3 separate regions of the Homo sapiens genome follow, and regions 2 and 3 are each linked to region 1. The links come from fine-mapping of genetic effects on gene expression. A gene starts in region 1. Each other region holds a variant in brackets. All regions are shown on one strand. Distances are between the middles of the regions. Region 1 holds the start of NOL10 (nucleolar protein 10). Region 2 has its middle 110 kb from the start of ODC1-DT. Region 3 overlaps NOL10 (nucleolar protein 10).

Region 1 (10,240 bases):
CTGGGCATGGTAGTGGCTGCCTGTAATCCCGGCTACTCAGGAGGCTGAGACAGAGAATTGCTTGAACCAGGGAGGTGGAGGTTGCAGTGAGCCGAGATCTCACCACTGCACTCCAGCCTGGGCGACAGAGGGAGACTCCATCTCAAAAAAAAAAAAAAAAAAAAAAAATTGTAAGCCCTAGTTTAAGAAACAAAACAGTGAGATGATACACAATGAGAACTTTGATCTCTAGGGCCTCTTGCAGGGGAAGAAAGATTCAGGAGAGTTACCCAGGTGTCTCAGTCCATTCTCTGTTGTTTACTACAGAATACCTGAAACTGGGTAATTTATAAAGGAAAAGAGTTTATTTGTTACAGCTGTAGAGGCTGTGAAGCCCAGGGTCGAGGCGCCATATCTGAAGAGGGCCTTCTTGCTGATGGGGACTCTGCAGTCCCGATGCGGTGCAGGGCATCACATGGTGAAGGAGCTGAGTGTCCCGGCTCAGGTCTCTCTTCCTTTTCTTATAAAGCCACCAGTTCCCCTCCCATGATAACCTATGAATCCATTAACCCATTTATCCATGAATGCAGAGTCCTCATGATCCAATCACTTCTTCTAGGCCCCAGCTCTCAATACAGCCTCATTGGAGATTAAATTTCACTGTGAGATTTGGAGGGACATTCAAACCACAGCACTGTGCAGAGGAGGGTGTTAAAAGTAGCCAGAGGAGCAGGAGCAAAGGCAAGAAGAGGGTGAGAGAGGCCTTGTATTTTTCAGGCTGTCAGTAATCCAGGATTTTTGGAGAGGGTAGTGAATGCAGGAGAGAGGCAGCAGCTTCGGCACTGGCTGGAAAAGGAAGGAGGGGCCAGGTGCCTATAAGGCCAGAACCTGCAAAGGTGTTCGAATGTAGTATTTTCTTTTTCCTAGAGAGGGTCTCACTCTGGTACCCAGGCTGGAGTGCAGTGGTACGATTATGGCTCACTGCAGCCTTGACCTCCCTAGGCTCAGGTGATCCTCCTGCCTCAGCCTCCCAAGTATCTGGGACTACAGGCATGTGCCACCACACCTGGCTAATTTTTTGTATTTTTTGTAGAGACAAGGTTTCACCATGTTGCCCAGGCAGGTCACAAACTCCTAAGGTCAAGTGATCACCCACCTCAGCCTCCCAAAGTGCTGGGATTACAGGCATGAGCCACTGTACTCGACCTTCAGGTGTGTTCTTTTTGGCTTTAGGAGGATTGAAGAGTTTTTGTAGGAGTGCACCATAATCAGATTTGCCTGTTAGAGAGAATGAGTTTGTCTCTTATGGGAGGCAGACTTGAGGCTGGGAGAACAGGAAAAGGGACTACAGTGGGCCAGGTAGGAGACAATGAGGTCTGAACTCCTGCGGCAGCAGGAACAGAGAAGGAATCTGATATTGGAAAGAAGGAACCAAATGCTTCGGAGACCTACTGGCCATGGAGGTAAAGAATTAGGAGAGGAGCCAGGCGCGGTGGCTCACACCTGTAATCCCAGCACTTCGGAAGGCTGAGGTGGGAGGATCACCTGAGGTCAGGAGTTCGAGACCCGCCTGGCCAACATGGTGAAACCCCGTCTCTACTAAAAATACAAAAATTAGCCTAAAAAATTAGCCAGGCATGGTGGCATGCGCCTGTGATCCCAGCTACTCAGGAGGCTGAGGCAGGAAAATCGCTTGAACCCGGGAGGCAGAGGTTGCAGTGAGCTGAGATCCCGCCACTGCACTCCAGCCTGGGCAACAGAGTGAGACACTGTCTCAGAAAAAAAAAAAAATTTAGGAGAGCAAGCTTGAATGTTATTTGAAGGTTTCTGGAATGGCAACTAACAGCAGAACATTTAAGGTTAGTTGGAATCTGTAACAACTAGTTTTTCTGGAATAGTTTTTAATGTTTTGGTTTTCTAATAACTAGCACTTATGTAGTGTTCTGTGTAAGGCACTGTTCTAAGTGCTTTATATGCACTTTATTTTATTGACTCTAAAAGACCATTACCTATAAGATGCACCATTCCCTCAAGATATGCACGATACACTAGACTCATCCTTTCAGAGATGCTAAAAAAAAATGAATGTCCTGAAATCAGTGATTTATGGCGTAAACTCACTTTTCTGTTTTTTTGTTTTTTGAGACAGAGTCTCGCTCTTTTGCCAGGCTGGAGTACAGTGGCGCAAACTTGGCTCACTGCAACCTCCACCTCCTGGCTCACTGCAACCTCCACCTCCTGGGTTCAAGCGATTCTCCTGCCTCAGCCACCTCAGTAACTGGGACTACAGGTGTGTGCCACCATGCCCAGCTAATTTTTGTATTTTTAGTAGAGATGGGGTTTCACCATGTTGGCCAGGATGGTCTCGATCTCTTGACCTCATGATCTGTCCTCCTCGGCTTCCCAATGTGCTGGAATTATAGGCATGAGCCACCATGCCCAGCCTTTTTTTTTTTTTTGAGACGGAGTTTCACTCTTGTTGCCCAGGCTGGAGTGCAATGGCACAATCTTGGCTCACTGCAACCTCCGCCTCCCGGGTTTAAGCGATTCCTGTGCCTCAGCCTCCAGATTAGCTGGAACTACAGGTGCCAACCACCACACCTGGCTAATTTTTGTATTTTTAGTACAAACAGGGTTTTGCTGTGTTGGCCAGGCTGGTCTAGAACTCCTGGCCTCAAGTGATCTGCCCGCCTCAGCCTCCCAAAGTGCTGGGATTAGAGGTATGAGCTACTGCGCCTGGTCATGATTAGTTTTTTTTTGTTTGTTTGTTTTTGTTTTTGAGACGGAGTCTCGGTCTATTGCCCAGGCTGGAGTGCAGTGGCGCCATCTCTGCTCACCACAACCTCTGCCTCCCGGGTTCAAGCAATTCTCCTGCCTCAGCCTCCTGAGTAGCTGGGACTACAGGTGCGTGCCACCATGCCCGGCTAATTTTTGCATTTTTAGTAGAGACAGGGGTTTCACTATGTTCACCAGGCTGGTCTTGAACTCCCGACCTCGTGATCTGCCTGCCTTGGCCTCCCAAAGTGCTGGGATTACAGGCGTGAGCCACCGTGCTCAGCCCATGATTAGGTCTTAAGGGCAGAGCTCTCATGAATGGGATTGGTGCCCTTACAAAATACAGGTTGAGTATCCCTAATCTGAAAATCCAAAATCTAAAATGCTCCAAAATCTGAAACTTTCTGAATGTCAATGTGATGCTCAAAAGGAAATGCTCACTGGAGCATTTCGGACTTGAAATGTTTGGATTAGGGATGCTTAACTGGTAGACCCATCTCTATAAAAACAAAACAGCCAGCTCTGGTGGTGTGCCTGTACTCCCAGCTACTCAGGAGGATAAGGTGGAAGGACAGCTTGAGCTCGAGTTTGAGGCTGCAGTGGGTCATGATCATGCCACTGTATTCCAACCTGGACAACAAAGTGAGATGCCCCCATGGAAAAAACCCACAACGCCAACAGAAAGTAGATTAGTGGTTGTCTAGGGCTTGGGTGGGGGATGGGGCATGGAGTGAATGCTAATTGAGGCTGGGGTTTCTTTTTGTTCTAAAAATGATTGTGGTGATGGTTGCAGAACTCTGAATACACTAGAAGTCATTACATTGTACATTCAATGGGGACATTTTACAGTATGTTAATTATATCTCAATAAAACTGTTAAAAAGGAAATGTTAATGGAATTTGGATACATTTCCACTTATTTGGTATATGGCTTTATTTTCAGTTTTATTTTACAAACACTTACATGGTCTTACTATGTGCCAAGTACTGGGTTCCAAACGTTTTATAAATATGAATGTATTTCATCCTCATAACTCTGTGAAGTGGATACTACTGTTATCTCCATTTTACACAGGTACAGAGAGGTTAGGTAACTTACCTAAGGTCTTTCAGTTAAAAATGGCAGTCGGGATTTGAATCTTGCCAGTCTGGCTTCAGAGTCTGTGATCTTTATTTATTTTTCAAGAGATAGGGTCTTGCTGTGTTGCCCAAGCTGGAGTACAGTGTTAGTCACAGGCATGATCCCATTACTGGTGAGCATGGGAGTTTTGACTTGCTCCATTTCTGACCTGAGCCGCTTCACACCTCCTTAGGTAACATGGTGGTCCCTGGCTCTTGTGGGGTCACCATATTGATGCCAAACTGAGGACACCCAACGCTCGTTGCGTGCTACAGCCAAGAACTCCTGGGCTCAAGTGATTCTCCTGCTTCGGCTTCACTAGTAGCTAGGACAATAGGCCTGCACCACCAAGCCAAGCCAGAGTCTGTGATCTAACCATTCTATTATGCCACCTTTCCCAAAGATGTTTACAGTTTTTCTTAACTGTAACCAGTGTAGAAAATTAAAAATTTGTGGAGGATCTTAAATTTGAGGACAGAGTTAAGGAATATATCCCTACGTACATGGCTAAATGTAAATATGTAGCAATGCCTAATAGAGGCCAGGCACTGTTCTGGTACTCTGGGTAGGGGTGGATGGGGTGGATAGGGAATATAAGGACAAATGATATAGGGTCCACGAAGAACTCTCAACCTAATTCTGATGCAATGTGGTGTTGGTATTTGAGAGTTTCCAAAATGTTGTGGGTAGGAGAGCAAAACAATAATATTTGGGTTTTAGAAAGTAAGGCATAAAATAATTTGTTCATTAAATCAAAGGAAGTAAGAAGATCACTTGGGAAAGTTATAATCCAAAAATAGTTAAGTATTTGAGTTTCAGCAGGAGGAATGAAAACAGATTACTTTAAGGAAATATTTCATAATTAGAAATATCCAGGTTTAGATACTGAAAGTGAGGGCCAGAGATAGGAATGGGTTGAAGATGACGCCACAGTCTTCTTTTTTTTTTTTTTTTTTTTTTGAGACGGAGTCTCACTCTGTTGCCCAGGCTGGACTGCAGTGGCACGATCTCAGCTGACGGCAACCTCTGCCTCCCGGGTTCAGGCGATTCCCCCACCTCAGCCTTCAGAGTAGCTGAGATTACAGGCGCGCGCCACCAGGCCCGACTGATTTTTGTATTTTTAGTAGAGACGGGGTTTCACCATCTTGGCTAGGCTGGTCTTGAACTCCTGACCTCAGGTGATCCGCCCGCCTCGGCCTCCCAAAGTGTTAGGATTACAGGCGTGAGCCACCGCACCCGGCCTACAGTACTTCTAACGTAACATCGCAGAAACACTGGAGGAGAGAAGAGAATACACTTCCACTCGGAATTCGCACCCTGGTCGCCTTCATTCGCTGGGTTCACTCGCTGAACTGCCTCGCCCCCGCCCGGGAGGATGACATCTCGGCCTGGGCAGAGACTCGAAAGCCTCCTCCTGCCGCTCGGGATGCTAACAGCAGGGAGAGCTGTGTCTAGTTTTTTTTTTTTTTTTTTTTTTTTTGAGAGGGAATCTCGCTCTGTCCCCCAGGCTGGAGTGCAGCGGCGCGATCTCAGCTCACTGCAACCTCCGCCTCCCAGGTTCAAGCAATTCTCCTGCCTCAACCTCCCGTGTAGCTGGGACTACAGATGCCGGCCACCACGCAAGGCTAATTTTTTTGTATTTTTAGTAGAGACGGGGTTTCACCATATTGGTCAGGCTGGTCTCGAACTCCCGACCTCAGGTGATCCGCCCGCCTCAGCCTCCCAAAGTGCTGGGATTACAGGCGTGAGCCACCGCGCCCGGCTTGTGTCTAGTCTTGCCCGTAGCAGCGTCGCCGACAGCCACGCCGGGTTGTCAGAGCCTCACTAGTTTTTCTCCCGGCCGCCGCTCTTCCCGGATTCAGCCACCTTCCCTCTTCCGGGAACTTGCCCGCGTGTTCCGGCTCCAGGAAGTGCGTCATCAGTCGGCGCCAGCGGCCGCACGCCGCGGAGCAGGGGCTCGGAGGTCCCGGGATTACGGTGCTCGAGCACGCTGGTGGGAAAGGACCCGGGACTTGAACAGTGTTGTGCGGCGCCATGCAGGTCTCCAGCCTCAATGAGGTGAAGATTTACAGCCTCAGCTGCGGCAAGTCCCTTCCTGAGGTGAGTCACTTCCCGGCCCCCTCACTCTCGAGCTCTTGGGGGTCGTCCTCCTCGTGGGGCAGCCGCCCCTCTCCTCGGCCCTAGCCTCTGTTTTAGCTGGACGCTGGTCACCCCCCGACTCGGGGAGGCCCAGAGGCGGCTGACAATTTCCGGGGGAGGTGTCGGCATTGGGAGACAAGGACACTGCCGTCACCGCGCCAGAAACTGGACCAAGGGATAATCAGGGTCAGTGAGCTTTGCTGGAACTTTTGTAAAGTTCTCTGTTCCAGAGAACGCAACCATTTGGGCCTCTTTGGGTGTTCACAGTCCCTGCCGTACATCGAGGAGGAAAACGTGGCAGATTCGTTGACACATCTCTCCCCCATATGGCCATCAGCTGTTTGTGGAGTCCCTATCATTTGCCAGGTCTTAGGGATACAACAGTGAACAAGGGAGATACAGACTTCGCATCTGCAGAATTTATGGTGTAGAGGACAGTATTTTCGAGACTTGTTGAACTTAACCTGATTCCTAGTCTTAAAGTTGGAGAGGGCTTGGACAAGTCGGTAATTCTCTTCCAATCTTCTCGTGTTTAGTAATGCAGCTGAGATTTAATAATGCGTTTAATATGCAGCTGAGATCCAGCAAGGGGAAGGGTGACTTGTCCAGCATGACACACTTAGGCTCTGAAACTTGTCTTTTGTTTCTTATACGTGATGATCCAGCCTCTGTCCAAGCACTACCACTGAGCACTACCTTTTGTGGAAGCTCATTTCCATTTTGAGACTCTGCACTTGTTAGAAAGTGGTTTTCAAATATGTCACCTTATAGCATGCCACTGTTGGCCTGAGTCCTGCCCTTGGAAAACAGAATAAATATAGCTCTCCTTCCATGCGTCTGCTTCTACAAAAATTTGGAGCCAGTGCTTAGGTTTTTCCTTTCTTCCTAAAATTCTGGTTTGAATAATTCCCTGTCTTCCAGTTGTTCTTCACACCCCATGAGCTTTCTCATTTTGTTCATTCATTCTCCACATGTATTGAGAAGTTACTGTGTGCAAGCAACTCTGTTTTAAGTATTGGGATCTATAGTGGACATTTCAGATAAGGTTCCCTGTTGGGGAAAAGGGAAATAAACAAGTGAGCAAATAAGGCAATTTAAGGTAGTCAAAAAGTACTTTTCGTGGTGAATGATTAGAAGAGAGCTGTTTTGGATAAAATATTGAGAGAAAGTGTTTTGGATAAAACCTTCGGGGAAGGCCTCTCTACAAGAGGTGACATATGAGCAGAAACTTGGATGATGAAGAGGAGCCAGTCGTGTGAAGATGTGGGGAAGAGTTTTCAGTGCTGAGAACAGAAAGTGCAAAAGCCCCACATGGGAATGCACTGGACATGTAGGAGGACGGAAGAGGCACAGGTGTGATTGCACTATGCTGAGTGAGGGGGCGAGAGCAGGGTGGATGAGGCTGGAGAGGTAGGCCTGGTAGGAAAGGTAGGAAGTTCAAGTTTTATTCTTAGTGCTGCTGGAAGTCACTGTTGTGTGGGCTGCTGTGCGACAAATGTCTAGCTGGGGAGGGTTCAAGTCGGGATGAATTAGGTAGTCCAGGTGAGCGACTTCGGTGGCTTGGGCTTGCCTGGTAACAAAGAAGATGCTAAAACACAGTGAGATTCAGGACATACTTTGTAGATAGGGTAATGGAACTTGCTAATGGATTGGACTGTTGGTAGAGGGAAGTTGAGGTGACAAAAAGGAAGGAATCAGAGAACTCTTCAGTTTTGAGTCTGAACAAGTGGGTGCACGGTGGTGCTGCTAACTGACATGGAGAAGAATCAAGAAGGAACACATTGAAAGGTGGAGAGGAGGAACGTAGTGAGCAAAAAGAATCAAGATTTTTTTTTGAGGTCGCGTGCAATGGCCTGATGTTGGCTCACTGCAACCTCTCGGGTTCAAGCGATTCTCCTGCCTCAGCCTCCCCAGTAGCTGGGACTACAGGCACGTGCCACCACACCAGCTAATTTTTGTATTTTTAGTAGAGACGGAGTTTCACTATGTTGGCCGGTATGGTCTCGATCTGATCTTGTGATCCACCCACCTCGGCCTCCCAAAGTGCTGGGATTACAGGCATGAGCCACTGCACCCGGCCCAAGGTTTTTATTTTCAATAGTGAACATTTGAAGTTCTAATACATACCAAATGGAGATGTTGAGTAGTTAGCAGTTGCATGGATACTAGGATGGAGATTGCAGGTGAATTTACTGTCGTTATTTGGGACTAGGTGAGATCAAATTGTGAGAGAAAGAACAGAGAAGATAACTAGGCTGAGGACCTGAGGCAGTCTTAGCATTTGTCATCCAAGAAGAGGAGGGGAACCCAGCAAAGAAGAAAGAGTAGTGGGCACTGATGGAAGGGGAGACTGGGAAATGTGTAGTTTTGTAGAAGTAAGTGTTTCAAGGAGGAGGTGGTGGTCACCTGTGTCAGCTGCTACTGAGAGCTTCAGTAAGATGAAGGCAGAAAAATGACCATCGACTTTGGCATGATGCAGAGCGCCCTTGACCTTGGCAAGGAGCTCCAGTGGAGTGGTGGGGAGGGTAGCTTGAGCTGAGTGGATTTGGAAACCCCTGCTTGTCCTGTTTAATATTTTCTGGTTATTTCTTTGAGGTGTGGTGCCTAAACTACACGTGGAACCCCAGTTGTTGTCTGATCTGTGCAAATATTGCTTCTCTCCTTCTGGGCTTTACCTTTTTATTAATGTAGAGAAGCCTCTACGTTTACTCCCCTGGTGATCCTAGGCAGTCTCCTGGCTTTAAGCACATCTGCATATCGATAACTATCACATTGATGTTTCTAGCCCTTACCTCTACTCTGAACTGGACTTGTGTATCCAACTGTTTCTTGACATCCCCGCTTGGATGTCTGATAGGCATCTCAAACTTAACTTGTCCAAAGTAGAACACCAGCTTTCCCCCCACATTTCCCCCTCCTGCAACCTAGTGGTCTTCCCTCCCTCAGCCAGTGGCAACTCCATCCCGCAAGCTGTTGATGCCAAAAACACTGGAGGCTTTTTGTTGTTGTTTCTTTGCTCTCATACAATCCACTAGAAAATGCTGTTGCTTCTATCTTCAGTATAGATCCAGAATCCAGTCACCTCCATTACTGTCACTGATTCAAGACACTGTCACCCCTGACTATGCAATTGCAGTTATTGCAGTTGACTTCTAAGCAGTTTCTCAGTTTCCACCCTCTACCCCTTTATTCCACAGTCTGTTATCAGTAAGCTGCCAGGGTGATCCTCTACTCAGAACTGTCCAGTGGCTCCTGCTCTCTTGGGGGTGAAAAGCAGAGTCCTTTGAGTGACTTTTAAGGTCCTACTTGATGTTGTGCCTTCCTGCCCTCCTCTCTGAGCTCAGCGGTCACTGTTCTCCACCTTACACTGGCCTCACAAGTCTCACTGCTCGAGACCAGGCACACTCCTGCCGTAGGACCTTGGCACAGGTCCTGCCTGCCTGCTTTTTTCCCAGATGTTCTCCAGGCTTTGCCTCCTCATGCCTTTCAGGTCGTTGCTCAAGAGGACCTTAACCTTATTCAAAATTATAATTCTCCACCAACACTTCGTCTCCTTTTCTTGCTTTATTTTTTCCATGGCATACATAACCATCTGACATTCTAATTGTTTTACTTCCTTATTTGTTGGTGTTCCCTCACTTGAAAGAAAGCTTCATGAAAGGAGGGGTTTTTAGATTTTTAAATTTTTTTTTTTTTTGAAACAGGTTTACTCTGTTGCCCAGGCTGGAGTGCAGTGGCACAATCATGGCTCACCTCAGCCTTGACTTCTCTGGGCTCAATGATTCTTGCACCTCAGCCTACTGAGTAGCTGGGACTACAGGTGTGTACCAACATGCCCAGCTGCTTTTTTTTTTTTGTAGAGACAGTGATCCCACTTTATTGCCAGGCTGGTCTCGAACTCCTGGGCTCAAGTGATCCCCTTGCCTCAGTGCTGGGATTATAGATATGAACCACTGCACTTGGCCAAGAGGGCTTTTTTTTCCCTCCTGTTTTATTTACTACTGCTATACCTAATTACTGGCATTTAGTAGTACTAAATAAATATTTGTTTAATGTATTGATGAATAAAGTTAATTTTCATTTTCAGCTCCATCACACTTTTGACTTGGGGCTACGATTTTTATTCACACAATTTGACCTACAGTCTCCCATTCTGGAGTTAATCAGCTTTTGTTGTATTTTTAATGCCGTTAAATTTATTTTCGTTAGTTTTCTAGTGGTTAAGCC
Region 2 (10,240 bases), 130 kb after region 1:
GGCTTATTAGTATAGGTGTATTCCAAATATTGCATAGGGAATTCTTACACTAAATAATGACTTTATCTGAAACTCAAAGTTAATGTATGACCTGTATTTTTATTTGTTAGATTTGGCAACTTCAGAAGGAATTTGTGGACATACTTTTAAACTACGGCTAGCCAAAGGGAATGGGATGTAGTGCATATGTAGAGCTCAGGCCTACAGAAACACGGCAGATCATAGGGAGAGGGCTGGCGGAGTACTTGGCAAATGTAGATAGGTAGGCGGGTGGGTAGGCAGAGGCAGTGAGGGGAGCAGGTGGACATGCTCTTCTGATTGCTTCTCTTTTCTCACCGGAGTAAGCAGCAAGGTTATGGGCAAGGTAACCTTCTCCCGCCCCGCCATACACCTTGCACAGAGCTTACCCTTGACTCAGACCCTCCATGCTGGGGGAATTACCTCCCTGTGACCATCCTAGGAAGACACCTCTTGGCTCTTGCAGAGTCAGAAAAGCACAGGACATGGAGTTGAGAAACCCGGTTTCTTCTTTTTCTTCTTTTTCTTTTTTTTGAGATGGAGTCTCGCTCTGTTGCCCAGGCTGGAGTACAGTGGCACAATCTCGGCTCACTGCAACCTCCACCTCCCGGGTTCAAGTGATTCTCCTGTCTCAGCCTCCTGAGTAGCTGGGATTACAGGCACACGCTGCCATGACCAGCTAATTTTTTGTATTTTAGTAGAGATGGGGTTTCACTGTTGTTGCCCAGGCTGGTCTCGAACTCCTGAGCTCAGGCAGTCTACCCACCTTGGCCTCCCAAAGTGCTAGGATTACAAGTGTGAGCCACCGCACCTGGCCTGCTTTTTCTTTTCCCTGTTATGGCCTCTCTGGGTTTCCAAAATTCTATCTCTTTTTTCTCTTTTTTTTTTTTTTTTTTTTTTTTTTTTGATGGAGTCTCACTCTGTCACCAGGTTGGAGTGCAGTGGCACAATCTTGGCTCACTGCAACCTCTGCTTCCCAGGTTCAAGTAATTCTCCTGCCTCAGCCTCCCGAGTAGTTGGGCCTACAGGCATGCATCACCACGCCCAGCTAATGTTTTCGTATATTTAGTAGAGACAGGGTTTCACCATGTTGGCCAAGATGGTTTCAATCTCCTGACCTCGTGATCCACCCGCCTCAGCCTCCCAAAGTGCTAGGATTACAGGCGTGGGCCACCTCGCCTGGCAAAATTTTTTTTTTTTTTTTTTTTTTTTTTTGAGACAGTGTCTCACTCTGTCGCCCAGGCTGGGGTGCAGTGACGCGATCTTGGCTCACTGCAACCTCCGCCTCCCGGGTTCAAGTGATTCTTGTGCTTCAGCCTCCCTCAATGTTTTTTTTACTTTGTCCCACAGTAAGAAATCCATTTGACATCATGGTGCAGAATACACGTACATCAAAGGTATTAGAAAATTGTTATCTTGCATCATACAAAGGACGCTGTTATTTTTCTATCCAGTCCTGCTCTAGTTCCTTTACACCTCCCCCCAAAAAAGTTCACACCCATTACTATGGTTCCACCACCCACTAATGAGGGCTCCAACCCCGAGTTGAGAATCACTGCCTACTACCCTAATCAACTGATGGCATTCTTGCAGGAGTATGTTGACAAAGCCCATACTGAAATGTGTCCCCCAAATGTGTAATTCTTCCTATTGTAATGTGATAAATTGTGTAATGAAACGTTTTGCTGGAGTTTTATGAGAATTTTTTTTGACTGAAGACACGAGATGAGTTTTTAATTATTTTTTTCAAAGCTCTATTTTCAGCATAAATTAAGTACAAAATATATTTTATGGAATAGTTATAGGGTTTTTTAGGAAAATTTAAAAGATTTTGTGGTTCTTTCTAAGGAAAACTTTCAATGTGTTAAAAACCTATCCAGGGCCTGGTGCAGTGGCTCACGCCTGTAATCCCAGCACTTTGGGAGGCTGAGACAGGCAGATCGCTTGAGGCCAGGAGTTCAAGACTAGCCTGGTCAACATGGTGAAACCCCATCTCTACTAAAAATACAAAAAAATTAGCCAGATGTGGTGGCAGGTGCCTATAGTTCCAGCTACTCAGGAGACTGAGGCAGGAGAATCACCTGAACCTGGGAGGCAGAGGTTGCAGTGAGCCAAGATCGCGCCACTGCACTCCAGCCTGGGCAACAGAGCAAAACTCCATCTCAAAAAAATAAAAAATAAAAACCTGTCCAGGTTTTTTGTTTGATAAATTTTGTTTTTGAAATGATTTTCAAACCTAACTTTACCCATGTAGCCATGAAGTTAAAACAAAATCCTAGAGTTTATGCTGTCATTGTAAGCAATTACAGATGATGGCCATTACAAAACTTCATTTTACTCTTTGTGGAAGACTAGTCTCCATTTCATATGCAATAGAAGATTCAACTCTCTTTTGCACTTGAGAATACTAAAAGTAAATGTATTTTAGTAAAGAAAAAAAACCCACATGTAAATGAATGTGTGTCTTGGAGCAACTGAATTCTATTCAAAACTTTGGAAGGAAACAGCAAAGTGTTAGAATACGTGATTTTTAAAGTGTATGTATAAATAAATACCGTGAGTAAATATTTGCTTATTTCTTTGACATCCCTAAAAAGTTTATATATACAAGTTGGCATAATTTTTTTTCTTCCCCTTGGGAAATAGTGTAATTGCCTTTATTTGGAGTTTCCTTATATTAACCATTTATAATTATAGTAGCTTGATTTAGGACATTACACATCTCTTTGAACGTGGGGAAATTTTCAGTCCTGAAAATTTTTATCTTACAATTTTTTTTTATTAACGTGTACATTTTCCAAAATTAATGCAATAACAAATCTGACAGTTAATATTTGAAAGAACTATTTTGGCCAGCATGCTGCCTCCTACTCAAAACATCTGTTGTTCCCCATGAGCACATACTGGGTGAATGGAAACTTCTAAGAAAATGTCAGTCCTTACCCTTGGAGATAGGACGGCCTGAGGCAGGAGTGTCAGGAGGGACACAGGTCACCATGCTGGTGCGGGCTCCGGGTGTGCAGCTCCCTGCAGGGGGTGGAACCCTCCCCACTCCCTGGGCATCCTGCCCAATGGGAGTCCCAGATGCACATCTTAATGCACGAGGAAGTTATTATTCTCTCACTGTTGTCAGTTGCAGACCCTGTTTGTGACTATTCTGTAAACCCAGATGGAACTTCAAAGCGGTAGGGTGGAGGGAGGCCAACTATATTTTTCTGGTAGCCTTAGGTTTCTTTCCAATGTAGGACAAAATCACGAATCTCAGCCTCTCAGGATTTGAGGGATCTTCTAGTTGAACTGGCTGAGACGCCTACCTGATTGGATTTCCCGAGTTGCCTTCTCTCCCATTTCAGATGATCTCATTGTGAGTTGAGATTTGGAGAATCAAAACCTCCCTCCCCGCCCTTTCCCTAGCTTCCTCCTGCCCTTGCTAGGTCTGCCTTCCAGGGTTCTGCAGAACTGCTCTGATTTCTCCTGGCGCTCCCTTCTCTGTCCCCATTTCCCTCTGCACATCACCCCTTTCCTTGCTGGGACCCACCTCCAGTCCCCTCCACTCACCACTCAAGCTCGTGGGAGAGGAAGCTCATCTCCTGATCTCCAGCCTTGCTAGCCTCCCTGGGAGCTTCGACACGGCCTCCATTTCCCTCTTGTCCTCGGCCTCCTTGGTCTCTGCCGACTCCTCATCCTCACCCACGCAGGTGTTAACATGCTCCAGGATGTCTTCTTTAAGCCTGTCACTCTTCCTTCCATAGTGTCACCTCTCTTCAGTGTCCCAGAGCTGCCTCCCAGATAGCCTCTGGGCCTTTCATCTGGGTGGCCGCTGGCACCTTGAGTTCCACATGCTCAAAGCAAAACTCATCCACCCCATCCCACCCACCCGAACACTTGCTGCTACTCCTCATTCGCCCGTCTATCAACCTGAGCCAGAAGTCACAGTTCCTGCAAGCACTACTTATCGAGCACTCTGCAGTTGACTCAGCAAAAAGAGCCGTTTACTTGAGTTTATGTTTCACGGGGGAGACAGACGATGCATCCAGTAGACACAATGCAGGCCACACGAGCCACTGGGCAGGCAGGAGAGCTGGGAGGGCAGGGCTGAGAATGCAAGAAATCGGCTGGCTCAGAAGAGGCCTCTCCGAGAAGGTGAGAAGTGAGCAAAGCCTGGAAGGAGGGGAGGCAGTTGGCCAGGGTATCCGGGAGGAACATTCTAGGCAGAGATCTCCAGGGTGCATCAGAAGCCCCTGGAGGGCATGTAAGGTGGAGTTTCTAATTCAGTGGGTCTGAGGTGGGGGCAGAAAACCTGCATTTCCAACATCACAGATGCTGCTGCTGCAGCTGGCCTGGGGCCCCACCTGAGAACCACTGGCTGGTGCAAAGGCCCGAGGCAGGGCTTTGCCCGGATGCTCAAGGAAGACGCCATTGGCCCCTGGGGCTGGCAGGGAGTAAAAGATTCCCCTGTAATCCGGCGGGTGTGGCTTGGTGTCAGCTGTACCAGAGTGAGTTGTGGGGCACTTGGGTCCTTGCATTGCTGTCCCAGCCCATGGAGCTCTCCGTGGGGATCTTTTCATCCCGGGAACCTCAGCCACAACTTCCTCCTTGCCCTTTGCTCGCCTCTGCAGCCTCCTGGCCCAGCAGCCTTCCCTGCACGCAAATGGCAGCAGCATCTGGGCTCCCCAGGCCAAGCTGTGGGAAACTCTAAGCCTTTCATGATGATGGGCTTTCAAAGTCCAGGACGGTCTGATGAGTGAAGACAACAGAAGGAAACAAGACCTGGGTCTGGTCCGGACTTGCTCATGGCGAAGATTTCAGTTAGTGGCCAAGTCACTTAACCCGTCCGTGCCTTGGTGTCTACATCTGTAAAATGGGTTTAATAGTATCTGTCCCCTAAGACTTCAGAGGATGTTAGTGGAGCCTAGTGAGTGAAGTCCATTAAATTCAGAAGAAAGGCGTAACTAAATACAAAGCACTACTAGAATTAGCTCTCAGGGTCTTTAAGCCAGGTTGCATCTTGTTTTAAGAGGGTTACCATGGC[G/A]ATGAGTTTGTTTGAAAAGCATATGTTTAAAAGGCTTGGCTATTATCTTGCAACAATAAGTAAATTTCATTTTGCTGGTTCCCATTGTAACAGAGGCGCAGCGCCTCACCAGCAGCCATGACAGCCAACACTGCTGCGACTGCCACCTTCTGCCATGGCAAAGAGCACGGTTACTCCTGCTGTACATACAGTGAGTGCTTACTGTACGTTGTAGAGGCCACTGTGGTGGCATCTTGTCATGCGGATAGAGGACTGTCCTGTGGGCAGGACCCACCAGAATAATGCTCCTGCCATACCCACATCTATGGTTATGCTGGGTCTGCACTGGGCCAGAGATGTTGGCGGGATGGGCGGGGAGGGGTGAGGCTGAGCATCCTGCAGGAACGACTCTGTACCAGGCACCATCAGATTCTTTACACGTCACATCTCATCAAATGCCCCCGGCAGCCTGGCACTGTCCCGGGCAGCAGGATGGGGGTGTGGGTGCATAAGAGGTAGGACGGTCCCTCCCTCCATGAGAACAAAATTCAGCCTAGAAACGCAGACAGCGTGGCAATGCTGGGGCGGTGGTGGGGGTCCTAAAACTCAGGCACAGGGGCCAGCCCAGAATCTGGGGTCCTGGGGCTGGGCAGGGGCTTGGGTCAGTCCCTGGGTGCAATCCCAGCCCCACCGCGCAGCAGCTGCATGACAGTGGACAAGTCACTCACCCTCCTTGCCCTGGTTTCCACAAACAGGAGCACACACAGCGCTGTCAGTGGGACGTGGGGCACGCCATGTTCAGAGGCTCCATGTGAGTCTCTGGCAGGCAGCAGCAACTGAATGAATGGGGCAATGGGGACTGTGGCCCTGGATGAGGACACAAAGCTCCTCAGGTGCTGCTCTAGCTCCATGGTCCTGATTGGACAGGAAAGACCCTGTCACTCCGCCGTTGCTTCTTCTCAGGGCTGGACCCACCACAGGCACCTCACACACCTCCTGGAGTGCAGGAAGCAGGACCCCTTGTCTGTGTGGGGCCACATGAGCAGAATCTTGCTCAGGTCTGAGAGCCCCACCTCTGCTAAGAGGGGCTTTGAGGGGGTCACATATCCCCATGTTCCTGCTCACGATTGGGCTGTGGTGTCCCTGCTGTGCCACAGGCCCAGTCGCAGCCAAGGCAGGACCAGGGGCTGGAGGGTCTCGGAAGCTGCCGCTCAGCCCCTGCCTCAGTTTCCTCACACTGTGAAGGTGGAGTCAGGTGAGCCTCCCGTTGCCTGGTTTTCCTGGGGAGGGTGGGGTCTTCCTGTCCAGCTTGGACGTGGAGTGGAGCACCCCTCTTTCCCACAGTCCCGCCAAACTGGACTCATTTTCCTTCAAAGCCTAAGTCTTGTGAAGACACTTGTGCCCTGGAGGGCCTGGCGGCCACGAGGTGGACACTCCATGGCAAGGCCTCGTCATCAAGGCACCTGCCGCCCAGCACAGCGCTGTGCACAGCAGGTGCTTACTAAATACAGGCTTAATGAATAAGTGAATGAATGGAGAAGGGCATGAGAGAGGGGAAGAAACTCATCTGTATTAGCTCAAAACAGCCCGAATTCTGGCCTCCAGTCGGCATGGGACCAAGGAGAGCTGCGCATGTGGTGATCTGAGCCTCAGCCAGGGTGGGCCCAAGGGTAGGGGTGAGGCGAGGTGCACCCATTTTCCTGGGAGCTGAGCTGGAGGCTGATCCCGGCTCAGGGCCTCCTGCTTCCTTCCCTGTGTGGGGAAACGAGAGGCATTTCCTGGAAATGCAGCCTGGGTGCAGCGGAGGACAGAGCCAGGTAGGGTGGGAGGAGGCTGTGGGCCAGGGCTCTGGGACAGGTGAGAAGACACTGGCGCTCTGCCCAGAGACCCTGTCCCCCAGCAGAGTGGCTACGAGTTTCCTTCCCATCAGAAGTCAGGCCCTGCAGGTCCATGGACCAAGACAAGCCACCTCCAACCAGAAAGAACTCTGGAGAGACGTGCCTGTGTCCACGCCCATGGTTGCTCAGGGACCAGTCAGGCAACCTCCTGCCTCACTTTCCCCCTACAAAACAGGGAGATCAGCATGGCCCGTTGTGTGCCCCCAGGAGAGGCACCTGTTATACAGAGCAGGGCGGCAAACAATGGCCCATGGGCCGAACCCAGTCGCCGCCTGGTGGTGCTTCCTTTTCAGCCACCCACCTTGTAGTGCCTGGCAAGGGCAGCCTAAGGGAACCCACACCCTCTCTGACACCTCTGTTGTGTGGATCTCACAGCTCTCCCTGCTGTCATAGCTTATCATTTATTTATTTTTATTATTTTTTTGCGACTGAGTCTCACTCTGTCGCCCACGCTGGAGTGTGGTGGCATAATCTCGGCTCACTGCAGCCTCCGCCTCCCGGGTTCAAGCGATCCTCCTGCCTCAGCCTACTGAGTAGCTGGGACTACAGGCGTGTGCCAGTACACCTGGCTAATTTTTGTATTTTTTGTAGAGGCAGGGTTTCACCATGTTGGCCAGGCTGGTCCCGCACTCCTGACCTCAGGTAATCTGCACGCCTCAGCTTCCCAAAGTGCTGAGATTACAGATGTGAGCCATCGCGCCCAGACAGAAGTTATCATTTATTTATTTTTGCTCATCTTCCTCTACTAGAATGGAAACTCCACTGAGAGCAAGGATCCCATTTATTCTTTATTTCCGTATCCCCGGTGTCTTTGAAAGTGCCTGGTACGTACTGGCACAACGTTTCTGAAATGAATGAGTAGATATGGCTCTACTGGTGTCCTGTGACCCGCGTAACCAAGTGCCAAGAGCTGGGTGGCTCGCAACAACAGAACCCGCTCTCACCGTCCTGGAGGCCAGGTGTCTGACATCGAGGTGTCAGCAGGGCCCTGCTCCCTCCAAAGGCTCCTGGGGAGGCTCCTTCCCGGCCTCCTCCAGCGTCTGGGGGTTGCTGGCAATCTTTGGCACTCCTTGGCACTCCTTGGCTTGTGGACGCTTCACTCCAATCTCCGTCTCCGTTTCTGCCCAGAACTCCCTTGTGAGTCCGTGTCTTTGCTTTCTCAGGAGAATTGCTCATTCCAGCCGCAGTTCTTCCAGGGGGCGGTCTGTGCGCGTGAACTGCCTGAGCGGGGAACCCAGCCAGATCATGAACTGCCCAGGCCCCAGCTCCCGGCTTGATTTGCTGCAGTTTTCCTAATTGGAAGAGAAACGTATGCTGATTATTTTTAAAGACATAAATGTTACAGAAATGTAACAAAAGCAAGTGAAATTCCCCCCAGCCCCATCTCTCCCTGCTCAATGGCGTGATCGCACACATTTGGGGCTGGTGCCTCAACTCAGGCCTCTCATCACCCATGGAGGCCTGGGATGGGCAGAGCGTGACGTCAGGCACCATGGGGGGACTCGCGGGGGCGAGCTTTACCTTTGCTCTTAAGGAGCTCCCAGTCTAAAGAGGGAGACAAAAAAAAAAAAAAAGCCCAAGGAACTGTCCTAGCCAGAGGGGCCTAAAGAGGCCATGACTAAATGGCCTGTGGCTTTCTGCAGGGGATCCTGGAACAGAAAAGGACTTAAGGTGAAAACTGAGGAGATCTGAGCCAACAGTGGACCTGAAGAATGACTGTCAGTCCATTCATCGGAACAAATGGGCCGGACTCATGCCCCATGTTAATAATGGAGGAACCTGGATGTGGGGTTTATGGGAACTCCCTGTACTATCTTCTCAATTTTTCTGTAAATCCAAAACTGTTGGAAAAATTAAAATCCATTAAAAAAAAAAAGACACAATATAAGGCACCAAGGCAAATGGTCTGCTGAGACAGAAGAAACCAAGCCTCGGAGCTCCCCACCGGCTTACGCTGAGGGACCCCCGGAGGGAGGCCAGCTGGCCCTTGCAGCCACACAGGGTGAAGGAAATGAGTTGGGTGTTTCGGGAGAGAGCAACCAGATGTCCCATCTGGCTGTGGCCCGCATCCCTCCCCGCCAGGGCCCCGCTCGGTAAGCGGTATCTGCAGCCTTGGGAATGCCCCAAGGGGAAGGGGACAAGAGGAAAGGGAGTGAGACCATGGGATGGACCCGCGGGCCTTCCTGCTCTAGTTCCCAGCCTCTGCCTGCCCCACGGGAGGCTCCCTAAGTTCCCCGAGAGTGCAGGAATGCACAATGAGCAAATGCTGGTTGCTAGGCCTGCGTGCGCACAGGCAGACTCTCCGTTGTGTCTTTCGGTGCCTGCAAGAGCCTTGCGGGTCTGCAGCTCATAAACCCTCTTCACTCACCATCTATTTTGCTATTTTTTAATTGCCTGAGGTCAAATCCAGAAAGCAGCTTCTGAGATTCCTGCGGCTTCCTGCCCGCCTGGTGTCCTACGCTACCATTTTCCTGTGCAAACACTTGAGGGGCGTTGGGAGCCGAGGGAATTGGAGCAGCAGGTCCTGTTCCTTCCCCTGGCTGTGTGTTTAGGAAGGTCTTTGGAAACACAACTGTTTGGAAAAGTCTTGAAATAGGAAATAGAGTCCCAGCTGAGTGTCTAGGTTACATGAGAGTCAAAAAATATAAAACCATTTCCTCCAAGGTTGCCAAGTTTGGAGGGCCCACCCCGCTCTGCACATCCTGCAAATGACTCAACTTGAATTTACCTCCGTGACTCTTGCGCGACTTCCACGCGTGAAGCCAGCACCCAAAGGAGCACTGGGTGCCCCTGGCGTCCTGGACACCAGCCTCCCCTCCATCACAACACTGGGACCCTATCCCAGGCTGGGCCTGGCCCACTGCTCAACAAGCATCACACTGTCACCTGGGGCATCTGCAGAACTTTTCATCAGACAAGGAGAAATGGCCTGTCCCTTGCATGGGGAGAATTCCTCTGCTATTTTAACCATTTTCTTTTCTTTTTTTTTTTTTTAAGACGGAGTTTCGCTTTTGTTGCCCAGGCTGGAGTGCAATGGCGTGATCTCAGCTCACCATAACCTCCGCCTCCCAGGTTCAAGCAATTCTCCTGCCTCAGCCTCCTGAGTAGCTGCGATTACAGGCATGCACCACCACGCCAGGCTAATTTTGTATTTTTAATAGAGATGGGGTTTCTTCATGTTGGTCAGGCTGGTCTTGAACTCCCGACCTCAGGTGATTCACCCGCCTCGGCCTCCCAAAGTGCTGGGATTACAGGCGTGAGCCACCGCACCCGGCCTTATTTTAACCATTTTCAAACATGCAGCTCAGTGGCA
Region 3 (10,240 bases), 40 kb after region 1:
TCCTGGTTTCCCCTCTTTTCCTTCCTCTTTCAGTGGGAACTTGAGAAGAACAGCAGGTAGCTGTGTGAATTTCACTGTTAGTCTTGGGTTAGGACTTGGCCGTGTTCTTCATCGGACACAAACCATCTTGTCTGTGCTCTAACACTGCTCTTTTTCGCCGTGGGCACTTAGTCCATCCTAGTGTCAGACTTTGCATAATGAGTTACAAATGCAAGAGCTGGCAGAAATTTTCAACATCACTTCTTGAAATCATCACACTGTAATTGCTACAGTAAATTTTATTTTGGCATTTTTTTTGTTTCTTATGACTAAAGACTTCCTCTTGACTAACACCCACGTTACTTGGTTTTGCCTGACTTGCTTACCTTGTTTATCTTTCTCATCACCTTTTTCCACACCCACCTTCTTAGCATCTTTTTCTTTTACTTTCCTTCTCTTAATTTTTAAAAGATAAAACACTTTTCCCCAACAGTTAAAATAGAAATGGTTTAGCCCTAACTACATAGTAACTAACACTTAAGTATTTGTAGGATTTCATTTTGTATTTCATATCCATTGTCTCACTTGATCCTCCTCGAAACCTTGCGGTGCAGGCATGGCAGTGTTGTCCTCATTTTCCATGCTGGCCATCTCTCTCCTCTGATTGGTTTGTTTTCTTTTCTTTTTTCCTTTCCTTTCCTTTCCTTTTTCTTTTCTTCCCTTCTTTCCCTTCTTTTCTTTCCTTTCTTCCTTCCTTCCTTTCTTTTCTTCCTTTCTTTCTTTTTTTTTTTGGGCAGAATCTCACTCTGTCGCCCCAGGCTGGAGTGCAGTGGTGCTATCTTGGCTGACTATAACCTCCGCCTCCTGGGTTCAAGCAGTTTTGCCTCAGCCTCCCTAGTAGCTGGGATTACAGTTGCAGGCCACGATGCCCGGCTAATTTTTGTGTTTTTAGTAGAGTCGGAGTTTCACCATGTTGGTCAGGCTGGTCTTAAACTCCTGACCTCAAGTCATCTCCACGCCTCAGCCTCCCAAAGTGCTGGTATTACAGGTGTGAGCCACTGCTCCCAGCTGTCTTCCGATTTCTTTCAATACAAGTTAAGCTGGGTACACTTCACAGATTATGAGAGATTTTTTTTTAAAGTTGATGCATAATTCAAACTTCATCTTTTCTTGCCATGTTGACATTATCTTTAAAATGTTGTAATTTTTCTTTTTTTTGGACAGGTCACTTCTTCTCCTTAGGCCTGTTTCTTCATCTATAAAATGGGATTTTTTGATAAATTGATAAGATAAATTCTCTAAGATTTTTAAGAATTTAAATTTTGTATTTGAAGTAGGCTATTTTATTTCTTTACATAGGAGTAGATGGTTGAGTTACAGCTTCAGTTTGACATTGCCAAAGTTGTTGTTCTTTAACTTTTAATACTTCGTTTTTGCTTGCTATTTTTAGGGAAAAATATTTACTTCCTTGGAGCCAGAGCATGACCTTAATGATGTTTGTCTCTACCCCAACTCAGGTATGCATTCTGTAGTGAACGTTCAGTGAGACAAATAAAAAGATGCATTCTGTAGTGAACGTTCAGTGAGACAAATAAAAAGGCTATACTTTTTTAGGTTTTAAACCCATTTTATTTCTTAAGATAGAATTTGGCTTTGTCAGCACAATTCTTGGATATTTAACTTACTTAGAAGAATTAAGAGCAGGAAGTGGTGTGGATGATTCAGAAAATGGCACTCTTAATGACTCAGTGCTCAGCCCGCCCAGCTATTAGTGGAACGTGGTAACAGCATACAGGTAGGAGGCAGGTGAAGTGCTATTTTAGTGTGCTCTTTAGCTCTTTTATGTGATTAGTAATAGTGTGTGGAAATTGAGGGTAGAGATTTGGAGAAAGCTAGATTGCCTGATAATACACAGATGGCTCATGAAGCCATAGGTTTTGTAAATTCTAAGTTGTATGCTATTCAGCAATTTACATGTTAGGTTTCAAAATTTAACAGTGCATTCAAGGCAAATCTGTGAAGAATTTCAGAGTATGGGAGAAAAATGAGAATAGTTTCTACTCTGAGGGCAGAGGTACCCAGATCATCTTGATAGAGAGAAGTAAGGCAGAGCGTGAGAACTCCTATCACATTTGTGCAAAGAGTACTTTGACAGCTTGCTGGAGAGAGAGAGCTTTTACCCTGTGACCACCGAGAGCGGAGCAGTGAGAAGATTTTGCTTTGCGTTGAGCTGGAGTGCCGAGTGAGATTTGGTTAGGTGGAGTTGGGGGGCTGAGGTGATTCTCATGGGAGAGCAGTCCAAGATGACCAAAAAGGATGGGCACAGAGGGCTCGGTTGGGGTGGGGAGGAGTGTCCTGTGCCTGAGCTGTGGTGGCTCTGGGAAGGCTGAAGTGGGAGGCAGAGAGTGGTGGGTGGTAGAGGGTTGGGCATGATGTGCTAAATGTCTTGGGCTCCGTGTGCTGTCAGAGAGGACTTGTTCCGACTGTGCTTTCAGAGGCAGGTCTACCCACTGTGCAAAGGGTAGATTGGTTTTGGACAAAAGTGCCTTGGAAGTAACTGATATTCTGAGCTGAGATGGGGAGCACAGGTGAGAGAGCAAGTTTGGAAAGATTATGGCTTCTTTTTCTAACGTGTGAGGATTAGGAGGTGACAGGACAGTGGCAGTATCTGGCACTATCTGGCTTCCCATCAAAATCATCTGCACAGCTTTAAAGGTACAGCTCCCTTGACCTTATACTAGGTGTACTCACTCATAGTGTCTATGGAAAGGGCTTAGAAATGTGTGGTTTTTTTTTTTTTTTTGAGTTGGAGTCTCGCTCTGTCACCCAGGCTGGAGCGCAGTGGCACAATCTCTGCTCATTGCAACCTCTTCTCCTGGGTTCAAGCGATTCTCATGCCTCAGCCTCCTGAGTAGATGGGACTACAGGCACGCACCACCACGCCTGGCTGATTTTTGTATTTTTAGTAGAAACGGGGTTCCGCCATGTTGGCCAGGCTGGTCTTAAACTCCTGACCTCAAGTGATCCGCCTGCCTCCACTTCCCAAAATGCTGAGATTACAGATGTGAGCCGCCGCGCCTGGCCAGAAACGTGTGTTTTTAACACACTTCCCGGTGGATTCTTAGGCGGCAAGCCCTGAACCGATCCGCAGACTTGTGCTTGGGGGGCGTGTCTGGCGTCCAGTAGAAAATGTGGTCTTGGGGTAAGCAGGTCTGTAGATAGAAAGTTTTGCGATTATCCCAGAAGTGGTGGGAATGAATGAGATTACTGATAGGGAAAGCTGGGAGTGAGATAAGAAGTGAGCAGGAGCTGGTTCATTTGGGAGAATGAGGGGGAGGAGCCAGCTGAGAAACCGGATGGGAATGGACAGAACGACAGTGCCAGGCCCCACGGTTTTTGAAGTATGGAAGAGATTCAGTGGGCACTGCTTAGCAACTACTAAGGATTACAGAAGTTGGGGCAGGAAGGAAAGAACTAAGATTGATTGCATGCTGCTGTTATCAATCTGGATGATGGATGCTGTAATACAAACTTATTTAATATTTTATAACTGTGTAGTCAGTGGTCCATGGCTTTTTTTTTTCTTTTTTCTTTCTTTCTGTTTTTTTCTTACCTCTTAAGGGGTCAGAAAAATTGGGTAATTCATTCAGGGTTGGTCACCCAGCTGGTGTGTGGCAGAGCCTCATTTAGAACCCAGCCTTCCTGTTTCTGGTGCCCATGCTGTTTTTTCTTTTTTCTTTTTTTTCTTTTTTTTTTTTGAGACAGAGTCTCCCTCTGTCCCCCAGGCTGGAGTGCAGTGGCGCAATCTCAGCTCACTTCAACCTCCCCCTCCCGGATTCAAGCGATTCTCCTGCCTCAGCCTCCTGAGTAGCTGGGATTACAGGTGCCCGCCACCACGCCCGGCTAATATTTGTATTTTTAGTAGAGACAGGGTTTCACCATGTTGGTCAGGCTGGTCTCGAACTCCTGACCTCGTGATCTGCCCGCCTCAGCCTCCCTAAGTGCTGGGATTACAGGCGTGAGCCACTGCGCCCAGCTGCCCATGCTGTTTCTAATTGCACACTGCTCTCCCAAGAAAGATGAGAAACCCTGGACTTTATAATTTGCATTTCATCTGTAATAGTTGAGAGAATTTTATTATAATCATGGGAGTAAAGTGAAATTCTGGTGAGTTCAGGAATAGATTGCAGCTGAGGATGCTGGGTCCTAGTTAGGGTATTGAAATGACCTACACCAGGGTCTCGGTTAAGTAGGTAAGTGAGTAAATCAGGTGGAGCTGAGGTTGGGGCAAGGGTGACGAGCAGGGATAGTGCGACTGGGGGAGTGACAGTTTGAAGGGCACAGAGAGTTGGGAGAGAAAGAGTCTTACCTTGGGCTGTACAGTTTGGTAGCCACTAGCCACTCGTGGGCATTGACATGTACTGTGAGTATAAAATATACATTGGATTTAAAAGACATTCTACGAAAAAAGGATGTAAAATAGATCATTAATAATTTTCTATTAATTACATGTTGAAATGAAAATATTTTAGACCTGTTGGATTAGTAAAATATATTAAAATTAATTTTACCATTTTTAAAAATGTGGCTACTAAAAATTTTAAAATCACATATGTGGTTCACATGCTCTTTCCATTGGACAGTGCTGGTCTAAACTGGGAGAGCTTCAACCCTTGAGGATGCTGGTAAGGTTTAGTAGTGCTTGTGCCTGGCCCAGTGTAGCGGGGATTGTTGAGCCTGGTAGGCTGCCTCAGTTTTTCCATTGTAACCAAGGATATAGAAGCCCAAAGAGACACCTGCTGAAATGAGTGCCAATCTGTTGGCCCCCGCAGGCTGTGTGCCTAAACAGCTTCTCCAGGAGGCAGGGCTGGAGGGTGGACTCTTGTGGGCAACTTGATTTCTCAGGTCAGTTTTTGTGCATCTCTTCCCCCACCTTTAATGGCTGTAAAGATCTCTTAACCCACAAAGGGTGTGACTACTTGGCAAAGAAGCCTCTTTCTGAGAAATACTCAGGCTCAGACTGTTGAGGAACCCATTCTTGAAATGCCACCACTGACGACAGTGGTTGGAATCACAAGGACAAGGAGAGGAGGGAGGCTGATGTTAGCAGTGCATGTTGTTACCCAGGTGACTGCTGAGGAAGAGACTTAAAATGGATTGAGAGGGTGCTGATAATTCAACTACGCATCTCTGGAATGCTGATTTTATTTTTTCGCCTGGTCTGTATTTATTTATTTTTTCAGAGACAGGGTTTCACATTGTCACCTAAGCTAGAGTGTAGTGGCACAATTATAGCTCACTGCAGCCTTGAACCCCTGGGCTCGAGCGATCCTGCCTAGGCCTCCTGAGTAGCTGAGGCTACAGATACGCACCATCACGCCGGCTCTCCCCTGGCCTCACGATAAAAATTTAAATGATTTGTCATTTAAAATGGCATAAAAATTGTAAAAATAAGCATGCTTTTAAATGAAATTTAAAAGTGTTTCTCTCTGGGAAAAACGCCCAAAACACTTATTTAATGAAGATTGTTGTGGCCTAGTGCAGTGGCTCACGCCTGTAATCCCATCATGCCTATAATCCTGAGGCAGGAGGATCACTTGAGGCCAGGAGTTCAAGACCAGCCTTGTCAACACAGCAAGACTCTGTCTCTACTAAAAATAAAAAAAATTAGCAGGAAGCAGTGGCACTGTGCGCCTGTAGTCCCAGATACTCTAAGGGCTGAAGCAGGAGGATCGCTTGAGCCCAGGAGTTTGAGTTTATAGTGAGCTGTGATCTTGAAACTAACTGTACTCTTGCCTGGGTGACAAAGCAAGACCTAAAAAAAAAAATTATCTTGCTAACATTTTAATTGTAGAAGCATTTATAGCACAGTGATTTTAATAGTTACTTATTAAAGTAATATTTATGAAGAAATGTTTGACAATTTGGTCAGAAAACATTCTTAATGAGTAGCATTTTAAAAAGTCTATTTGGCAAACTGACCTATAGGCCAAATCCAGTCCACCACTTGGTAATTTGCAGCCTTTGAGTTAAGAATGGGTTTTACATTTTTAAATGGTTGGAAAAAAAAATCTAAGAAGAGTAATATTTTATG[A/G]CATGGAAATTCAAATTTTTGTGACTGAAATTCAGATTTCAGTGTCTTTCAGCATAAAGTTTTATGTGAACACAGCCACCCTTGTTCGTTTATACATTGTCCATGTGGCTTTTGCAGCACTGTGGCAGAGGTGAGTAGTTTTAACAGTGACCAGGGGGGCTGCAGAGCCTGAAGTGTGTACTGCCTGGCCCTTTACAGAGACAGTTTGCTGACCCCTGGTCCATATTACTAATATAAACAAAAATGGTCACTTTATCCACAGTATTTAATTATGAAGAATTTCAGGCCAGGCGCAGTGTCTCATGCCTGTAGTCCTAGTACTTTGGGAGGCCGAGGCATGCAGATCACTTGAGGTCAGGAGTTCGAGACTAGCCTGGCCAACATGGTGAAACCCTGTCTCTACCAAAAATACAAACTTAGCTGAGCGTGGTGGCAGGTGCCTGTAATCCCAGCTACTCAGGAGGCTGAGGCGGGAGAATTGCTTGAAACCAGGAGGCGGAGGTTGCAGTGAGCCGAGATCATGCCACTGCTCTCCAGCCTGGGCGACAGAGCAAGACTCTGTCTCAAAAAAAAAAAAAAAAAAAAAAAAAAATTCAAACATACAGAAAAGTTGAAAAACTGGTAGAATGAACATCTTTATATTCTCTCCTCAATGTTTGTTATTGTTGTCTTCACCATAATTGATTTATTTATCTCTGTGCTTCTGTGGTTGTTGTGGTTTCTTTGTGGAATCACTCGAAAGCCAGCTGCAGACATGGTGGCACTCACCTGCACCCAGGGTGGCATTGATCTCCTGAAAATCATTGAAATTATTAGGTCCCTTATTGTGCCTAATAAAAATGGCAGCCCTTTTCTAATATTATCTTACATCCAGTCCATTTTCAGGTTTTCCTAATTGTTCCCCATATGCCCTTTTTTAGTTAGGTGTGGTTTTTTTGTTTGTTTTTTGTGTTTTTTTGAACCAGGATATAACTGAGGTTGTGTGTTACATTTCGCTGTTGTGTATCTTTAGTTTCTTTCAATCCAGTATAGTCCCCCACATCTTTTTCTTTTCTTCTCCATGACGTTGACTTTTCAAAGATCAGGCCAGTGGTCTCAGAATATCCTTCATCCTCGATTTATGTGATTTTTTTTTCTCGTGATGTTGTTTAACTTGATCCTCTACCGTGTATTTTTTCTAAAATAGAAGTTAAGTCTAAAGACTTAATTAAGTTTAGATTAAATTTGGGGCAAGAGTAATGTGCAGGCTGCTGAGGTCTCCAGGTCGTTGCAGTATTGGAGAGGGGTAAGGTTGATCCCATTGTTAAGTGATGTCGTCATTACAAAGTACAGTTTCTTGCAAACCAGCAACTTTAAGCATGATGTTTTGGACAAAGGAATGACTGTTACTATCTAATAACTCGTAAGAGGTTAATCAAGAGTAGAAAAGCTAGCCAAATAATTTATTTCATAAGAGAGCAGGCAGAACAAGACCCGTAGGCGCCCCTTCTTTGTGGCTTGGATCTGAGTGTGGCGGATGATTGCACTCCGCTTTTCCTTGCTTTCCCACACCTTTTCCTCCCGTTCAACTCTTTGTGTCTGGTGCTTAATCATTGTGGGCTTAATCATAGTTTAGAAAAGCTGAAACTGTCTTTCTTTTTTCTTTTCACTTACTCATTTTGGAGTAATTGAAGCATAATCATGATTATGGTTTTGTAATATTTTTCTTATACCAAGGCTGCTCAGTATATTGGGAAATGGTTCTGCCTTCCTGCCTTGTTCAGGGCCCTGCTCCTATGGCTCATCAGCCACCTGTACAGTGAGCAGCTGCTCCATGCCGGTCAGGGCACTTGAAGAGACAGCACGGCTCTATGACTTGGGTGTGCATCAGATTCATGACACGGGGAGCTTGTAAAGCTTACGTGTGTCTTGAGTCCCACTCCAGACCTGTGGAATCAGCATCGGTGGTTTCAGAACCATGGTAGAGAGAAAAGAACAGGGGCACTGGGCTCAAGAAAGATCCAATTCAGGCTTAATAGTGGTAGAAATTACCCAACCTCGGAATTCTCACCTGCCTTACAGGGCTGTTGAAGACTACCTGTACTGATAAGTGTGAAATAGCCTTTTATTCCGTCAGTGCCTTCTAAATACATGGAAAACTGTTAGAGCCATCTATAAATATCTTTGGTGCCTTGTATAGTAAACTCAAATGCCCCATACTTTCATCTGAGGTTCTAAATAGGGCAGGAGCGCCCCTGCCAGTCCCCTTTGGCACAGTTCTGCGTGCACAGCCTGTCTCCTCTGAGCTGTTCAAGGTGGTGACTGATGCCATATGTTTTTGCGCAGCACTTCCCAACACGTGTGGTGAAGGACCAGGATTTTGGTTTTTTGTTTTGTTTCGAATTTTCTAATCCACTGCACGTTGATACGTCTGTAAAAGACAATACAAATGAATTACTAGGAAAATGATCACACATTTGGTTGTCACTGCAGTGTTGAATTGCAGGTTTCTAAATGCTTCTTTTCAATTTCTGCACTTATTTCCTGGCCTGGTAACAGTTTGCAGTCTGTCACTGGGGACACACTTTGAGCAGCTGTAGAGCACTGTGTTTGTGTTGTGAACTTCAGTGAGTCCTTTAGTCCCCAGAGCACATGCAGATGAGTACTGATTTGTGCATGTTTCTGGGGAGGGCACTATTTTGTCAAATTCTCTTTTATTGTATTATTACAGCGTACTATACACTATAGTGTACTGGGTCATATTGGAAATGTGTTCTTTTGACTCCAGGTGCTGATATCTTTTCCTTCCTTTAAAAATGTATAGTTTTATTGTGGATAAACTACATTAAAATAAATTTAAAGGAAAAAAGTCCTCAATGCCATAATCTCTTTACACGTACTGTCACGTACTATTACTGTCTTCATGGGTGAAACCATATTAATTCTGTGTTCATATGTTTTAAGTTGTCCTCACACTGTACTTACGGTTATCTTTTGCTTTTCAGTTTGATGTTATATTAAACACATCTTTCACGTTGCCATGTGGTATTCATACTGACTTTTTTAAAATGGTTTCTTACTTGATCATGCAGGAGGTCTTTTAATTTTACCTTAGTTGATGAAGTGTCAGAGTCCCATGTTATGAGCCTTGGAATTGGTAGACTGTCAGTGGCTCTACTTACTAGCTATGTGGTGGCCCTGAGCAAGGGAGGTAACTTGCTGAGAATGTGACTTGCCTGGCGCGATGCTCATGCTCTTCTCTTCTCCTGCCTTGATCATCTTAATTTCTGCTGAACTAAGGCTTTCTTTCACAGGTTTATTTTTCTGTTTCTGCCTGTTAGAAGCTGCTCATACTCTTTGGGCTCTATGATGTTCTTTTTCTCATTCATAATTGCTTTCAGCCCTGACCCTCCTCACTTGAGTTTGGTAGTAGACCTGCTTGTATCATTAGCCGTATGTGGTTGTGTGAGATCCTCCTCCATTTTTAGAAAACAGTCTAGCTGTGTCCAGTCTGAATTTTTTTGTGTAATTACATTAGAGCCCTTTCCGTGGTTTGTTTGGTAGGTGGTGTTGTATTTCATTGTGGAATGTTCATTGTTGAGTGTTCAGGGTTGAGCCAGTGGAGAAGGCTTAGGAGAGGTCTTTATTAGGAACCTTCCTTTTGGTTGTGAAGATGTGGCTTCTGTCTCCAGAACTGCTTTAATTATGTCCAAAGGCTCCTGGAGATCTTTCAGCAGTGTTGTTAGTGGAGACCTAGGAAGCACAATCAGCAGAGGCAGTTTCTGTCCATCATGACCTCGGTGAACGTTGTTTGGAAGGCCAGAAAAAGTGCTAAGATGAAAGATTCTACAAGAGTTACAAGCTATGAAAAACAGCTCTGACTTTGTTTTGGTTTAATTTAGACATTATTCTTGCTTTTTTAGACTTCATTAGGTGCTTTTAGATGTTTTTACGGGGTGTGTGTGTGTGTGTGTGTGTGTATGTGTGTGTGTGTGTTTTGTGTGCATATATTTTTGGTGACCTGTTGGTCCCAGTTCAGGGCTAGCTCACACTTCTGAGTTATTGGCAAGACGTGGTTTTGGTAAGATAGTATCGAGGCCAGATGCGGTGGCTCATGCCTGTAATCCCAGCATGTTGGGAGGCCGAGGCGGGCGGATCATGAGGTCAGGAGATTGAGACTGTCCTGGC

Evidence for each region.
Region 2: its variant is fine-mapped to the expression of NOL10 in whole blood (TOPMed, PIP 0.94).
Region 3: its variant is fine-mapped to the expression of NOL10 in whole blood (INTERVAL, PIP above 0.99).

The regions. Positions count from the first base shown.
Region 1 is chr2:10,685,530-10,695,769 of GRCh38, reverse strand. It overlaps NOL10 (nucleolar protein 10), which reads left to right and starts at 5,795. Exons shown (of 21, transcript NM_024894.4): 1 at 5,795-5,974. The coding sequence starts at 5,909. It also overlaps the pseudogene RN7SL832P. RefSeq lists enhancers at 5,949-6,228, 6,289-6,348.
Region 2 is chr2:10,554,635-10,564,874 of GRCh38, reverse strand. No RefSeq gene overlaps it. Among named protein-coding and RNA genes, the nearest start is that of ODC1-DT, 110 kb to the right of the region's middle. The variant G/A (reference allele first, on the strand shown) is at 5,051.
Region 3 is chr2:10,645,737-10,655,976 of GRCh38, reverse strand. NOL10 (nucleolar protein 10) reads left to right here. Exons shown (of 21, transcript NM_024894.4): 12 at 1,430-1,496. Among named protein-coding and RNA genes, the nearest start is that of NOL10, 39 kb to the left of the region's middle. RefSeq lists an enhancer at 822-2,021. The variant A/G (reference allele first, on the strand shown) is at 6,074.